2 separate regions of the Homo sapiens genome follow, and region 1 is linked to region 2. The links come from fine-mapping of genetic effects on gene expression. A gene starts in region 2. The other region holds a variant in brackets. All regions are shown on one strand. Distances are from middle to middle. Region 1 overlaps ENPP4 (ectonucleotide pyrophosphatase/phosphodiesterase 4). Region 2 holds the start of ENPP5 (ectonucleotide pyrophosphatase/phosphodiesterase family member 5).

Region 1 (2,817 bases), 36 kb after region 2:
TCAAAGTAGATCACAGACCTAGATTAATAGCTAAAACTGTAAAACTCTTAAAAGAAAATGTAGGAGTAAATGTGGGAGTACATTTTTGTAACCCTGGGTTCAACAGAGCCTTCTTAGATACCACACCAAGAGCACAAGTGACCAAAAAAGAGAAATAAACTGGACTTCAAAATTAAAAAGTCTCGTGCCTCAAAGGATACCATCAAGAAAGTGAAAAGACAACCCAGAGAATGGAAGAAAATATTTGCAAATCATATATCTGAAGAGATTTGTATCTAGACTATATAAAGAATTGCTACAACTCAATAATAAAAGTCAGATAATCCAGTCAAAAAATGAGCATGAGCTGAAAAAGATATTTCTCCAAAGAAGACACAAATGACAAATTAGCACATGAAAAGATGCTCAACAGCATTAGTCATCAGAGAAATGCAATCAAACCCACAATAAGGTACCATTTCACACCCCGAAGGATGAGTAAATAAAATAGATAACAACAAGTGTTGATAGAGAAATTGAAACCTTTATAAACTGCTACTGGAAATGTGAAATGGTACAGCCACTTTGGAAAATATTCTGGCAGTCTTCAAAGGGTTAAACATAGGGCTACCATATAACCCAGCAATTCTACTATTAGGTATGTGCTCAAGAGAAATGAAAACATATGTCCACACAAAAACTTGTACACAAATGTTCACAGCAGCATTATTTGTAAGAATCAAGTGGAAACATCTCAATGTGCACTAACTTATGAATGGATAAATAAAATGTAATATATCCATATAATGAAATATTATTTGACACAAAAAGGAAGGAAGTGCTAACACATTTTATAACCTGGATAAATACGCTAAATGTAAGAACGCAGTCACAAAAAATCACTTATTATATGATTCCATTTAGATAAAATGTCTAGAACAGGCAAATCTATAGAGACTAAAAGTAACTATAGTAACTATCTAGGGCCAGGGGTTGGGGGGGAAATGGGTAATAAATGCCAGTAAGTATAAAGTTTATTTTTGGGGTTATGAAAATGTTTTCAAATTGATTGTGATGACAGTTGCACAGCTCCATAAAGCAGTACTCTTAAAATGAGTGAATTGAATGGTGTGTGATTTATATCTCAATAAAATATTATTTTTTAAAAAAGAGCAGAGGGAAGTGAAATTGTAATCTGAAATGTCCTGCCACAAAACAGGAAACATTTTTGATCTCATTTTACCTCAAAAAAGTGAATTTTATACTCCAAAATACACACTTGAGTGTTTTAATGTGAAAGTTTTATACCACTTCCCATGTGCAAAACAGACCAAAAACCTGTGTCCGTCCTCTCCCACAAAACACAAATCAAAATGCTTCTTCCTCAAATCTTGAGTTAAAAGGATGCTCCAGGAACACATGCTGTTAATCCTGTGGCTCAGTAATCCCTCAGCACACTGCTGGGATCCAAGCGTCCCAGTCCTTGTTCTCAGGATAAGTAGTACAGACAAAGTGGAAAGACTATAGACTGAAGTCAGAAGGGTCCCAGAACCTGAACTCACAATTAGTAGATGGGTGATCTTGGGTAGATCCAACTTTTCTTGGCTTCTGTTTCCTTGTGTGTAAAATGAGGATGTGTAAAGGTTACAGAATAGGCCCTCAAAATTAGTTTCCCTTTATCATTCTAGTTACAAAGATGTTGGGAAAAAAAACAAGACTGTACTATGATAGGCAGAATATTATTGTGAAACTATAAAA[T/C]ACATTAGGAATAATTTAGTCTCATCTCTTCGCATATGATGACCTTGCATATGACTTTGCTTATGATGAAGCTAAAGTCCAGTGATTAGCCGGGCTCAGAAAGCAATCAGTTGCTTCACTGTGTTCTTACTAATTTCATGTCCTCAATAAGTTTACAAGTCCAGTAATAGCAAGTTAACAAGTCTGATAATAATCTCCAAACTATTAACAGAACTCTTCCTGATAGAACACCTTTTATTAGCAGTGCCGGATCCATGTCTGCCACATTCTGTCTCATTCTAATAGGGAGTGTTAAGCTACAGACAAACCAACAATGAGAAGTTCTCAAGCAGTTTCCAAGGAATGAAAATAAAGTTTGCAGGGAATGAAACTGTTACAGTATAAAACATTGAGAGAAATTCTGTAATTTTTCACACCAAAAAGATGTCAAAGAGAAGAAAAAAAGCAGACCTCTCTGGACTGCAACCAAATATCCCTACAACAAATGGAAGTATGAGTTAGTCTTCAATTCAGGGGACAAACTACCTTCTAATTTCTCTGGGAAGACGTTCTTCCCTGGATGGAATGCAGTCAACTCTCACTGGCATTCCTAGCCCATGTGAAGCCAAGAGAGTATAAACCATTACAGGATATGGTGAAAGATATTTGTCACTATTAGCACGCCATCTGCTCTGTAATACAATGAAACTCTCATACACCTTTAAAAACTTTATTCTATGACTATAAATAAGGCAGTTATCTTTAGATTATTATCAGTTGCTTTCTTATAGTCTAAGGAAAAAAATATACTCCTTAAAAATTCCTTAGTCTTAAAAATCGTAGGATTCTAAATTATTCTCCAATTTTGTAAAATACACAGAAATTTCTAGCATACACAAAGTTTTCTAGCAGCTTCAAAACACTTACACTTATCTTACTTTCTACATAGTAAAATACCTCCCTCCATTACTCCTTGTCCTTTCATCAAAATTTCTTCCAAATTAAGTCAAATTGTCCCTGTTTGCAGACGACATGATTGTATATCTAGAAAACCCCATTGTCTCAGCCCAGAATCTCCTTAAGCTGATAAGCAACTTCAGC
Region 2 (2,817 bases):
AAACTTACATTGTAACAATCAACCTGATATTATTGCCTACTGCAGATAGAACTAGAATTCTAATTAGGTCAGAATTCTAGCTGGGATTGTGTAGATGGACAAATTCTTTCAGGGTAGTTTGATATCACTGCTATAATTTATGGTAAAGACAGTTGGGATCATACTGGCAAACTAAGTACCTGCCTACACTCCCTCAGGCCTAAAAATGCCATTGATTATCCCAAAAAAACTGAGAAAATAATCCACTACAGTACGGAAAAAGACAAAATAGGGGCACTAACACACAAGAAGCACTGAAGGCTTTCTGAAAGAGTAATCAGGCCTGATGTTTGTAGTTTTAATGTTTACTTTGCAAACAAAGGTAGAAACAGAGTCTGGAGCTCGGATGCCACCACCAGAGAGGGTGGCTGTTCAGCCTCTCTCCTGTGCAAATTAACCTAATTCTGAACCTGTCTTGGTTTAATTCGCACAATTTCAGGTGCCATGCTAGGTACACCACAAATATACCTCAGGGACCTCAATTGCAAAAACCTGGACTGCAAACGTTGGGGCTGCAGAGTTGACTAGGTTAATAAATTCTTTCTGAGGTAAAGCAGATAACACCCACTAATAAAAAGAATGAAACTTCATCGTCCCATTGGCATCCTCGGGTGTGCAGGTGTTCCTCAGAGCAAAGCCCATGGTGTGCCCCATCGCCAATTCGTGACAAGGCAGGGGGCGGGGGGCGGGGGAAGGAAAAAAGCCTGGGATAAGAAATCAGAGAATACAAGTCGCTTTTAAACAAAAAACAGTGACTGTTAGAGTACACCCACCATTGGGGTAACACGCAATAATCTCTCAGCATCACTGACTCCAGCACAGCTGGTCCCCTGGAAAAGGCACGTTGCCGGAAGGTTTTGTGTGTGACCAAGCAATTGGCCATCCCACGCCTTCGCCCTACCAGATGGGTCCCTGCCCCCGGGAGTCCCCTCCCCCTCCACCCTCCAAACCCAGGCAGCGCCCGCCCCTGCCCCCGCTGATTGACAGGCCGTGCAGCTACTCCTGGGAGCCTGGCTTTCGGGGGCAACCCAGGCAGAAGTGACTATCTCTGCAGCAGCCAATAGAAGCCAGGAGGCGGGGCGGGGAAGCGGCGCGGTCAGGTGCTCCGCTCCAGAGTTGAGCGCAGGTGAGCTCCTGCGCGTTCCGGGGGCGTTCCTCCAGTCACCCTCCCGCCGTTACCCGCGGCGCGCCCGAGGGAGTCTCCTCCAGACCCTCCCTCCCGTTGCTCCAAACTAATACGGACTGAACGGATCGCTGCGAGGGTGAGTCCAGGGGCGTGGGTGGCTTCCCTCCCGGGAACCCACACTGCTCCTCTGGGTCCCTAAAGCAACGTCCCCTCCTTGCCACTGCACATCTAAGAAGCCCAGGCCTCGGTGGGCGGGATGACTGGGAATTGGGAACATAACCTACGCCGCGACCATTCTGGGTGGCTAGGATGGAATCCTGGTGGAGAAGATGGACACCCCCGCCCTTGACGTCTACCCGAGCTACACAAACCTACTCCTTCTGCACTTTCCCTCTTCCGTTTAATCGGTGCCCCGTCCTTCCTGCTCTCCAAGTCTGTTTGTGGAGGAAGGGTTGGAGGGGAGAAAGAACTGGAAAGTACTCAATGAAATGTGGAGCCAGATCCAGGGATTCCACTGTTTTGTGCAGCATTTTGTGCACGAAAAAAAAAAAAATTCTGATTGTTTTCATTCCCCACCCCCCACCTCTGTTTATTGCTCTGTGTCATGGATGTGATGTTGAGTCTTCTTGCCAAACATTCCTAAGCTTTAGACAACACTTAATCTTTGCTTACTTTTGTTGGTCCCAAGAAAGCAGTTTTCTCCTGCTTACACATGTGCCGAATTAATTTGCTAAGATAGATGAAAATGAGGTGTTCCATGTAGTTTATTTCCTCTGCTTTTAGCCTTAAATTACATTTGGTTGATACTAGCCTTCCTTGTTTTAAAAAGGTGGGAGAGAAAATTAGGGGGAGAAAGGACAGAGAGAGCAACTACCATCCATAGCCAGATAGGTGAGTAAATATATTTGCAGTAACCTATTTGCTATTCCTTGCTGCAACTGTGTTTAATGTTCCTTCCAGAATCAGAGAGAGTATTGCCATCCAAGAAATCGTTTTTAAATATGACATTTGAGCTATCATCTTGAGACCAATACCTAAAACAATTTCAGTTTAAGAAATGTCTAGGTATGGTGAAAACACAGTTTAAAACCAGCAAAACAGAATTTATTGCCCTCAGCGAATACCCACAATGTACATATACCTTGTATTTCTGAAAGCAAAGCAAGCATGCCAAGTAGTTTTTATTTACCTGTACCTATAATACAGCAAGGTGAAACAGGATATATTTTTGAAGTTTAAAAATGTCTTCAGGCCGGCTGCGGTGGCTCATGCCTGTAATCCCAGCACTTTGGGGAGCCGAGAAGGGTGAATCACCTGAGGTCAGCAGTTTTGAGACCAGGCTGGCCAACATGGCGAAACCCTGTCTCTACTGAAAATACAAAAATTAGCTGGGTGTGGTGGCGGGCGCCTGTAGTCCCAGCTACTTGGGAGACTGAGGCAGGAGAATTGCTTGAACACGGAAGGCGGAAGTTGCAGTAAGCTGAGATCGTGCCACCGCACACCAGCTTGGGCAACAGAGTGAGACTCCCTCTCAAAAAAAAAAAAAAAAGAAGTCTTCAGCTTAGGAAGATATCAAAAGGCAGTTTCAAGAGATTTATTTGTACAAGTGTGGTTTGATCTAAGTTTTGGTGGGTTTATAAATACCTTCATGC

What was found. PIP is the estimated chance that this variant, and not a neighbour inherited with it, causes the effect.
Region 1: its variant is the best candidate, but not a certain one, in a credible set for the expression of ENPP5 in whole blood (TOPMed, PIP 0.51).

The regions. Positions count from the first base shown.
Region 1 is chr6:46,133,016-46,135,832 of GRCh38, reverse strand. The region is part of intron 1 of ENPP4 (ectonucleotide pyrophosphatase/phosphodiesterase 4); the gene reads right to left. Among named protein-coding and RNA genes, the nearest start is that of ENPP4, 4.4 kb to the right of the region's middle. The variant T/C (reference allele first, on the strand shown) is at 1,738.
Region 2 is chr6:46,169,292-46,172,108 of GRCh38, reverse strand. ENPP5 (ectonucleotide pyrophosphatase/phosphodiesterase family member 5) reads left to right here and starts at 1,129. Exons shown (of 5, transcript NM_001290072.2): 1 at 1,129-1,301; 2 at 1,995-2,056. RefSeq lists a silencer at 898-957.